Homo sapiens: one gene and its partners. The protein of the gene in region 2 purifies or fractionates together with the protein of the main gene of each other region. This does not show direct contact. Each region holds a gene or a part of one and is shown on either strand. Other genes may lie near its edges. The genes, in order: TPD52L2, MMAB and PSMG2.

Region 1 (3,650 bases), on a different chromosome or scaffold from region 2:
GAACATGTCTTCTGGGAAACATTCCACAGCCACCCCAACCTTGAAGGGTATGTTTCAGAGAAGCCACGTGGACAGGGCCAAGTGAGAAAGCAGCACTCCCCAAATTCAGAGCTGAGCGACATCTGGGACAGGTGTCCCAGGGTTATAGGACCACGTCGTCATGTAGGACCACGTCGTCATCGGGGAGGGTCAGAGTCCCTAGGGTTGTGGGACCATATGGTCCTATATATAAATATATATATATATATATTTTTTTTTTTTGAGACAGAGTCTTGCTCTGTCACCCAGGCTGGAGGGCAGTGGCATAATTTTGGCTCACTGCAACCTCCGCCTCCCGGGTTAAAGAGATTCTCCTGCCTCAGCCTCCCTAGTAGCCGAGATCACAGGTGCGCACCACCACGCCCAGCTAAATTTTTTTATTTTTTAGTAGAGACAGGGTTTCTCCATGTTGGTCAGGCTAGTCTTGAACTCCTAACCTCAAGTGATACACCCGCCTCAGCCTCCCAAAGTGCTGGGATTGTAGGCATGAGCCACCATGCCCGGCCCATATGGCCATATCTGGGTCAGAGGCTGTGACCATGCCACACCCACAACAAGGACCACAGAAAAACCGCTCTTGCCAAGGACCTGATCAGTGCTCTCTCAAGTCTGGACCCTGAAACAGTCTTCCTATCATTTTCCACCAGGACAACTAGCCAGTGTGTCTGCCTTTTTAGAACACGTATATAAGCCGGATGTGGTGGCTCACACGTGTAATCCCAAGCATTTTAGGAGGCCAAAACAAGAGGATTGCTTGAGCCCAGAAATTTGAGACCAGCCTAGGTAGCAAAGCAAGACCCTGTCTCTATAAAACGTGAAAAAATTAGCCAGGCATGGTGGCGCACGCCTGTCATCCCAGCTACGAGGGGGGTTGAGTTGGGAGGATTGCTTGAACCCAGGAGGTTGAGGTTGCAGTGAATCATGATTGCGCCACTGCACTCCAGCCTGGGTGACAGAGCGAAACCATCTCAAAAAAGAATAATAATAAAAAAAAAAAAAAGGCCAGCGTGGTGGCCAGCACTTTGGGAGGCTGAGGTGGGTGGATCACAAGGTCAGGAGTTCAAGACCAGCCTGGCCAACATGGTGAAACCCCATCTCTACTAAAAACACACACACACACACACACACACACACAAAAAAAAAAATCAGCCGGGCGCGGTGGGAGGCGCCTGTAATCCCAGCTACTTGGGAGGCTGAGGCAGGAGAATCGCTTGAACCCGGGGGGCAGAGGTTGCAGCGAGCTAAGATCACGCCACTACACTCCAGCCTGGGCGACAGAGTGAGACTCTGTCTCAAAAAAAATAATAATAAAGTACACAAAAACTTAAAAATAAATAAAACACATGTAGACACCAAGCTTTTTGAACAAACAAGGCACAGTCGCTGGGCCAAGGGCTCAGAGCCTCTCTCTGGATCCTTCCAAACAGGCCACTCAACTCCACGGCTGCAACTCGTCCCTGGGCATGACGACGCCCCCCCACATGCCGGGGCACGTGTGGTGCCCGTTCTCTTCAGCCCCCAGGGGTGCGCCTGGGGCAGGTACCTACGCGCTAGAGACCTGCACGTCATGCCAGCTCCTGGACAGGTTCTGTTTCAGCTCCCCCAGGGTGGAGAGGCCCAGCCTCCTCTTGAGCTCTCCACAGTGCCTCTCCTTGGCTGCCAGGACCTGGCGCAGAGTGACAATTTCCTCTTCCACCTGCAAAGCATGCAGTTGACATGATGAGCCATCACTACTGCAGGAAGTGACTAACATCCTCATGCACAGTGCCATGAGTTACACAAGAACTTTCCGCTTACCAAAGCATTAACTCGTCCTAGGAATAACAGCATCTACAGCAGACATCTGATTTTTGGGTTTTGGTTTTTTTTTTTTTTTGAGATGGAGTTTCGCTCGTCGCCCAGGCTGGAGTGCAATGGCACGACCTCGGCTCACCGCAACCTCTGCCTTTCAGATTCAAGTGATTCTCCTGCCTCAGCCTCCCAAGTAGCTGGGATTACAGGCGTGTGCCACCCTGCCCGGCTAATTTTGTATTTTTAGTAGAGATGGGGTTTCACCATGTTGGTCAGGCTCGTCTCAAACTCCCAACCTCAGGTGATCCTCCCACCTCAGCCTCCCAAAGTGCTGGGATTACAGGCGTGAGCCACCGCGCCCAGCCAGCAGACATTTGTTTTTATCTGGTACTAGGAACTTGACTCCAGGGAACTATCCCATGCCCCACAACTAAATGGTTCTGGGAGAGCTACCAATCACCATGTCCATTTGTGGTCATGAGGAATGGCCCAGGATGACCATGCCAGGTTTGTCCGAGCTCTTTACTAGGACTGGGCATGGTATTAAAAAGGTGAAGACCGGCCGGGCGCAGTGGCGCATGCCTGTAATCCCAGCACTCTGGGAGGCCAAGGCGGGCGGATCACGAGGTCAGGAGATCGAGACCATCCTGGCTAACACAGTTAACACAGCGAAACCCTGTCTCTACTAAAAAATACAAAAAATTAGCCAGGCACGGTGGCGGGCACCTGTAGTCCCAGCTACTCGGGAGGCTGAGGCAGGAGAATGGTGTGAATCCAGGAGGCAGAGCTTGCGGGTGAGCCAAGATTGTGCCACTGCACTCCAGCCTGGGTGACAGAGCGAGACTCCATCTCAAACAAAACAAAACAACAACAACAAAAAAATGGTGAAGACCCTGGCCGGGCACAGTGGCTCACGCCTGTAATCCCAGCACTTTGTGAGGCCAAGGCAGGCAGATTATCTGAGGTCAGGAGTTTGAGACCAGCCTGGCCAACATGACAAAACCCCGTCTCTACTAAAAATACAAAAATTAGCCAGGTATGGTGGTGCACGCCTGTAACCCCAGCTACTCGGGAGGCTGAGGCAGGAAAACTGTTTGAACCCAGGAGACAGAGGTTGCAGTGAGCCGAGATCATGCCACTGCACTCCAGCCTAGGTGACAGACCGAGACTGTTTCAAAAACAAACAAACAAACAAAAAACAGTGAGGATCCTTTTCCCTCAGGGCTCTCAGTCTGGGCTTGGACAATAGAAGCTGGAACTGTTGGCAGCCGGGCACCGTCTGCACTCATAGAATTCCATATGCAGAGAGGAGGAGGCAGATGGACAGTGACACAGGTGACAGAAAAAAACACCCTTAAGAAAACACTTGTGTTCCTGAGGTCAGTTCCAAACCTTGGCAAGAGTCAGTTACACGAACCAAAAGGTAAATTATCTTTTGTGCTTAACGTAGTTAGAACTGAGCAACAGAAAGATTCCTGATCATGAAGACTTGAACTTTCTCAGGTCTTTAAAAAAAAAAAAAAAAAAAAAGAACATGACCTCTGAAAGGGGCATCATTCAAAGCTTTACCACTTTAGAATGAGTTCTCAGTATCTTCAGCTCATATATGACTAGCTTCTCTTTAAAAATTCTCTTTCTTGGCCGGGTACGATAGCTCATGCCTGTAATCCCAGCACTTTGGGAGGCCGAGGCGGGCAGATCACCTGAGGTCAGGAGTCCGAGACCAGCCTGACCAATATGATGAAAGGCCGTCTCTACCAAAAATACAAAAATTAGCCAGGCGTGGTGGCATGCACCTGTAACCCCAGGTACTCGGGAGG
Region 2 (3,650 bases):
GCTCCTGGATTTCCACATCCTCTAACCACAGGCATCACAAGGGGTGTTAACCTGTTCACCCATCCACCTCCCACCCAGCCTTGGCACTGTGAGGGCGGGGACAGTGTCTGGTTCACCTGGGAGCCCCGCCTGGCCTGGTAGCCGCTCGCAGGGCCTGTGGATGAGGCCGGGCAGCAATGCCACTGCTTTCCTCATATCACCCATTTCACCCTCACAGACACCCGTGAGGTGGAAGTTAATGTCCACAGCTTATAGGGAGCCAAACTGAGCCTCAGAAAGGCTGACTTGCCCAGCCCCCACAGCCAGGCATCAGTAGAGCTGGAATCTGATTCCCAAACTGGTGCCATTTCTCCCCAGCCCTTGGGGTACACGCTGCACGTGGCCAACCAAGTGGGTAGTATTATCACTCCCGCTTTGACTGTGAAAGTGCAGAGACCCCAAGCAGGGAAGCAGCTTGCCCAAGGTCTGCTGGTCAGAAGCCCTGGGAAGGTTCCAGCCCAGTGCTGGATGGGCAGCCTCTGCTCTCACACACCATGGCCTGCTTCTTGAATGCTGTCACAGTGGCCATCTTAGGAGAGGTCAGAAGTCGCAGACCTTCACCCTCCTGGTAGCCCACCATCCAGCTTGAGTGGACCCTGGCTGGGCACAAAGTCAGAGGTGGTACTTGTGGTCTTCACATGCATGAGAGCTGTTGGACATTTGTCATGCAGGGGCCTGGAGTCCTGCAGCAGACCTTAACAGACCACTTCTGTTCCAAGCAAACCCACTCCCCACCTGGACAGAGCACAGGCCTCACCCAGCCAGGCTTCCTGCTCCCAGAATCCCCACACGCCTCGGCTGACTACATTCTCCAAGCTCCTTGTCCTTTAGAGTTTAGAAAGCACTGTCACATTTGACCTCTTGGCCCAACTGTTACAGGTTAGAAAACCAAAGCTGTCAAATGTTGAGAAAAGAAGAAAACCTCACAGGGCCTAGGTGCACAGGAGACGTGGACAGAGCCCAGACGGTTCCTCTTGACTGTCCCTGGGTGTGTGATGCGTGTCATCTGCTTAACCCAGCTGCTGCCCCCATGGGAGCCTTTTCCTCCCTCAGACTGCAAAAGAGCCACACCAGGTCCCCCTCAGCAGGGCTGGGTGTCCAACGAAGATGTTGTGCTGAAAGTTCAGAGTTTGCTTTCAAATGTCAGCCAGTTCAAGGTCTGATAGCCTGTATTAGTCTGTTCTCGCACTGCTATAAAGAACTACCTGAGACCGGATAATTTATAAAGAAAAGAAGTTTAATCTGCACATGGTTTTGTGGGCTGTACAGGCTTCTGCTTCTGGGGAGGCCTCAGGAAACCTACAGTCATGGCGGAAGGCAAAGGGGAAGCAGGTACATCTTCACATGGCTGATAGGAGAGAGAGAGTGTGAAGAGGGAGGTGCTACACACTTTCAAACAACCACATCTCATGAGAACTCTATCACAAGACAGCACTAGGGGGCTGGGGCTAAACCATTCAAAACTACCCCAATGATCCAATCACCTCCCACCAGGCCCCACCTCCAACTCTGGGGATCACAATTTAACATGAGATTTGGATGGGGACACATTGCCAAACCATATCACAGCCCTTCATGAGCTAGCTGGCACAGGCTTTGCCGGCGTATTAGGTGGCGCCTCTGCACATTGTCTCTGTCCAGCCCATCTCACATAGATCTTGACTGTCACTTTCTGTCGCCCCCCAGATCCAGTGCACATTGCAGGACGTCGGCTCGGCCCTGGCGACACCATGCTCCTCGGCCCGGGAGGCTCACTTAAGTAATTCTCAAACTCCTGTGGGTGTTCAGAGGGCCCTAGGGTCAGGGGACTCTCCTAGGGTCACCATCTGGGATCCCAGGCCCCCAGGGACCCACGGGTGGGTCAGTTAGCCTTGCTCGTAGCTCCTGGGAGGGAAGGTACCTTCTGAGCCAGTGGAAGCAGTCTGCGGGACACCCAGGTGGAAGGGCGGCGGGGGTGGTTCCCGCCATGGTCTGGTGGGTGATGGCCTCATGGCAGTTCCCTCTGCTCCTTGGCTCCTCAGAGTATACCACGTTCAAGGCGGGGCCCATCCTGGAGCTGGAGCAGTGGATCGACAAGTACACCAGCCAGCTCCCACCACTCACGGCCTTCATCCTGCCTGTAGGTACTGGGCAGGCTTAACCGGGGGCGGCTGCAGGCAGGTTCAGTGACAGACACACATGGGCTCTGAATAAATCCCTCTTTTCACAGTGACAGACGCTGTCCTCCAGTTCCCCAAGTCCCTCCAGGTCCTCACCGGTCCCTCCCAGCCCTGCCCACTCTGGAGCAGCGTGCCCGGTGGGTGTGCCGTGGCAGGGCTCCTGGAGGCAGAACACTGCCCGGTTTGGGGGGCAGGGCTGGACTTCAGAGGAGCTCCTGTCCGCAGTGGGCACACCTTTCCCACCCTGCTCAGGCAATGTCCCTTTCTCCTTTCAGTCGGGAGGCAAGATCAGCTCGGCGCTGCATTTCTGCCGGGCCGTGTGCCGCCGGGCCGAGAGACGGTAAGAGGGCTGGAGAGAGGGAGAGGGCCCAAGGGAGAGGGAGAGGAACAAGGGGGAGGGGGGAGGGAGAGGGAGAGGAGGACGGAGATGGGGAGAGGGAGAGGGGCCTCTGCACAGCGGGCAGGAGGCAGGTACAGCAGGGCCATCTCTGAGCCATCCAGCCACACATCAACAGACCTTGTCTGGGCCCCTCCACTGTGCCAGACGGGGACCAGGACAGACCAAGTCCCTGTCCTCAGAGCACCATGTTGTGAAGTGGAGACAGTGACATGTGACCAAATAGACTATCAGACAACACAATTGCACCTTGTTTGTGAGCCCTGTATTCTGAGAACAGCAGGAAGTTATTGCTGGGTTCTCAGCCTCAGCCATCTTGGGGACAGGGGTAGACATGAAAGGACCCTGCTGGCTGCTGGGTGCATAAGGCTCCTGAAAGGCCTGCATGGCTGTGGGGAGCCCAGGTGGACGTTGTCAGCAGACTAGCCACCACCTCCTCCAAAGCTACTGACAGCCTTTTCAAGGAATCTTTAGAAGAAAATGAGCAAAGTCTCTATCTACACCACTCAGAGACCAGGCTGCCAGCCAGCTTTACAGAGAAGAGAAAGCAAGCCCTACTTTGATCCAATGGACTGGCACTTTATGTTCATAATTTCATTTACTCCTTGTTGATAGCCCTGGGAGAGAGGTGGTGGTGGCCTCTGTTTTACAGGAGTCAGGAAGCTGTGGCTCAGAGAAATGACACCATGGTCACGGTCCCCCACATGGTTGATAGCAGAATCCAGATTGGAGTCCACGTCTGTCTGGGCCAAGCCTGAGCTCTTCCACGGTCCCACACCACTAAGGTTTTGTTCTTTATGAAAGGCTCTCGGGCCCAGATAGCTCCTTAGAGATCCCAGGTAACAGAACAAGCTTTGGCTTCAAAAGAAAAAACTGTCATTTGTACAAAGCCATCCATCAGCAGTGCTCATAATAGCAAGAAACTGGAAACAACCCAAAGGCCCCGAAAACAGGCATGGCGGAGCAGCTGATAGGTCCTCCATGCAGCAGAGAGTTACGCAGCCATGGCAGTGGCAAGGTGCAGATTGTCCTGAGGTGGGGACACACACCTGGGG
Region 3 (3,650 bases), on a different chromosome or scaffold from region 2:
GAGTCTCGCCCTGTTGCGCAGGCTGGACCGCAGTGGCATGATCTCGGCTCACTGCAAGCTCCACCTCCTGGGTTCACGCCACTCTCCTGCCTCAGCCTCCCGAGTAGCTGGGACTACAGGCGCCCACCATCACGCCCGGCTAATTTTTTTGTATTTTTAGTAGAGACGGGGTTTCACCGTGTTAGCCAGGATGGTCTCGATCTCCTGACCTTGTGATCTGCCCGCCTCAGCCTCCCAAAGTGCTGGGATTACAGGCGTGAGCCACCGTGCCTGGCCACAAGACTAATTTCAAAATAGCAAACATTTATTGAGCATTGATTCTTTGTGCTGATACTGTTCTAAGTACCTTATATTTATTACTTAATCCTCATGACAAACCTATAAGACAGATACTAATATTATCCTTATTTTTCAAAGGAAACACTGAAGTACAGAAAGATTAAGCAATTGCCTGACACATGATCTTAGGGAGGCAGGACCAGCACTCTAACCCAGGCAGCCTGGCTCCAGAGCTTGCCTTTTTTCTTTTACTTTTTTTTTTTTTTTTTTTTTTGAGACAGGGTGTCACTCCACCCAGGCTGGAGTGCAGTGGCACAACTATGGCTCACTACAGCCCTGACCTCCGAGGCTCAAATGATCCTCCCACCTCAGCCTCCTGAGTACCTGGGGCTACAGACGTGCACTACCATGTGTAATAATTTTTTTTTTTTTTGTAGTAACAGGGTCTCACTATATTGCCTAGGCTGGGCTTTAACTCCTGGGCTCAAGTAGTCTGCCCACCACGGCCTCCCAAAGTGTTGGGATTACAGGAGTGAGCCACCTTGCCTGTCCCAGAGCCTGCCTCTCTTAACTGCTGCACTAGACTACCTTCTTATTTTAAAAGTTAGCCTGCATTTCTCTTACCTGCATTTTAAATTTTATTGAGTAGTTATTTTATGAGCAGTCTTTGAAAAATTTTCATAAAGCGGGCTCCCCCTGAAATTTTATAACCCACATTCCAGATTTACCAGCTGTGAATGTCTTGCCACACCTACTTGATCTCTCGCTATGCGCGTACACAGTTTCCTTCTTCGAAACAATCCAGAAGTAGGCTAGCAATGGTCACCCCTACATACTTCCGCACACATCTTTCAAGAACAGGACACCATTACCACACCCAAGAAAACCAGCATTTAATGAATTTATTCAGGAGTATCATCCAACATACTCAAATTTCCACAGCTGTTCCGAAAGTATCCTTCAATTCTGGATCCATTGATGGTTCACAGGTTGTATTTGGCTGTTACATCTTTTTAGTTGTTATCCTTCAGAGTAAAACTGGCCTGCCCCTCTTTCTTTCTTTACAATATTGACTCCTTTGAGGAACCGGGGCTGGATGTGGAGCATTCTCCATTCATCTGATTGTTTCCATGTGACCAGATTCGGGTCACAAATTTCTGGCAAGAACCCTTCACAGATGACCATGTATTGGTTATTAGGTAACAATAGATTACTCAAGTAGAGAACTGGGAAATTGTCCTTTGTCCATCACAATAGATTTTTTTTGAAATCTAGATTCCTCATGATTCATTGATTTCTTTTCTTTTTCTTTTTTCTTTTTTTTTTTTTTTTGAGAAAGTTTCACTCGGTTCCCCCGGCTGGAGTGCAATGGCACAATCTCGGTTCACTGCAGCCTTCACCTCCTGGGTTCAAGTGATTCTCCTGTCTCAGCCTCCTGAGTAGCTGGGATTATAGGTGCCTGCCACCATGCCCCGCTGATTTTTTTATTTTTAGTAGAGATGGGGTTTTACCATGTTGGCCAGGCTGGTCTTGAACTCTTGACCTCAGGTGATCCGCCTGCCTCCCAAAGTGCTGGGACTACAGGCGTGAGCCACCATGCATGGCCATTGATTTCTTAATTATAAAGATACATTAGATAATTCATTGCTCTTTATCATTCACTTTCGGTTTAAGCACAGTAAGTGGATCTGAAAATAATTTCAGTATATATAAATTATATATCATTATCACATAAAGTTGATGAAATAGTATATAGAATGTTTGTATGCTCTAAGACTAACTTTTAGATTTTCTTTTTATTCTCTCAATGGTGTGCAAAGTATAAATCAAAGCCATTCTGTGAAAAACTGCTTTCCTGGGTGAAAAGCAGTGGCTGTGCCAGAGTCATTGTTCTTTCAAGCAGTCATTCATATCAGCGTAATGATCTGCAGCTTCGTAGGTATGTTTCTGCCTCTGGAAAGTTATTTTTGGTATGGTTTATACTATGATAATTTCTCTATTAAAAAGTTAAACTTTAAAAGCCACGTAGATCCTTACCTCTTCTTACTGGAGTTTAGAAAGAGGGGGGTAAGAGAAGGTCAGGAGATGGGAGGGAGTACAGTTAGGCAGATCTTTTCAGTTCCTGTGAGCTTAGTAGAGTTGGGGCATGGGGAAGACATCGTGTAGAGAGAGAGAGTTTGGGAACCATGTTTTTAGTGTTTCCCGTCACATACATGGCAACATCACAGAGCTCAGCTAATTGAAGAGAATAAGCAGAAAAGGTACTCAAGATTTATAAAGTTGCTAACTTTTGAAAGGTTAATATTTTCAGTTATTTCCATATGTTACCTTGAAAGATTAATATTTTCAGTTATTTCCATATATGCTACCATTTTTTAAAAAACATTTACTTTTTGTAGAGACAGGGTCTAGCTATGTTGCCCAGGCTGGTCTCGAATTCCCAGGCTCAAGCAGTCTGCCTGCCTCAGCCTCCCAAAGTATTGGGATTGCATGTGTGAGCCCCCCGCACCTGGCCACATGCAACCATTCGTATTTGCAGAAATCCACTTGCCTAAAGGGTAGCTCCCTGGCATGTCAGAGTGAGTTCTTAAATGTAAGACAGAGTATCCCAGAAATAGAACTATAAGCTATCATTACCACATAAAGTTGATAACATATCATATAGAATACTCTTATACTCTAAGATGTAGCTTTTATTTATTTATTTTTGAGACGGAGTCTTGCCCTGTCACCCAGGCTGGAGTGCAGTGGCATGGTCTCAGCTCACTGCAACCTCCACCTCCTGGATTCAAGCGATTCTCCTGCCTCAGCCTCCTGAGTAGCTGGGATTACAGGTACCTGCCGCCACGCCAGACTAATTTTTGTAATTTTAGTGGAGGCTGGGCTTCACTGTGTTGGCCAGGCTGGTCTCAAATTTCTGACCTCAGGTAATTCGCCTGCTGGGTCTCCCAAAATGCTGGGATTACAGGCATGAGTCACTGTGCCCGTCCCCAGGATGTAGCTTTTTTTTTTTTTCCTCTTTTTTTTTTTGAGACGGAGTCTTTCTCAGTTGCCCAGTTCTCAGTTGCCCAGGCTGGAGTGCAGTGGCGCAATCTCGAGTCACTGCAACCTCTGCCTCCTGGGTTCAAGCGGTTCTCCTGCCTCAGCCTCCCGAGTACTTGGGACTACAGGCGCATGCCACCACACCCGGCTAATTTTTTGTGTTTTTAGTAGAGACAGGATATTGGCCAGGCTGGTCTCGAACTCCTGACCTCAGGTGATTTGCCTGCCTGGGCCTCCCAAAGTGCTGGGATTACAGGCATGAGCCACCACGCCCGGCCCCAAGATGTAGCATTTAGATCATTTATTTTTTATTTTTTATTCTTTTGGGG

What was found.
Region 1: the proteins of MMAB (region 2) and TPD52L2 fractionate together in Homo sapiens (co-fractionation; one large-scale study listed by BioGRID). This does not show direct contact.
Region 3: the proteins of MMAB (region 2) and PSMG2 purify together in Homo sapiens (co-immunoprecipitation; one large-scale study listed by IntAct). This does not show direct contact.

The regions. Positions count from the first base shown.
Region 1 is NC_000020.11:63,871,753-63,875,402, reverse strand, and holds part of TPD52L2 (tumor protein D54), read right to left. Parts: intron 1,736-3,650; coding exon 1,587-1,735; intron 1-1,586.
Region 2 is NC_000012.12:109,559,928-109,563,577, reverse strand, and holds part of MMAB (corrinoid adenosyltransferase MMAB precursor), read left to right. Parts: intron 1-1,725; coding exon 1,726-1,798; intron 1,799-2,060; coding exon 2,061-2,158; intron 2,159-2,248; coding exon of another isoform or gene 2,249-2,335; intron 2,336-2,473; coding exon 2,474-2,538; intron 2,539-3,650. UniProt on the Homo sapiens protein: Converts cob(I)alamin to adenosylcobalamin (adenosylcob(III)alamin), a coenzyme for methylmalonyl-CoA mutase, therefore participates in the final step of the vitamin B12 conversion.
Region 3 is NC_000018.10:12,716,418-12,720,067, forward strand, and holds part of PSMG2 (proteasome assembly chaperone 2), read left to right. Parts: intron 1-2,099; coding exon 2,100-2,218; intron 2,219-3,650. UniProt on the Homo sapiens protein: Chaperone protein which promotes assembly of the 20S proteasome as part of a heterodimer with PSMG1.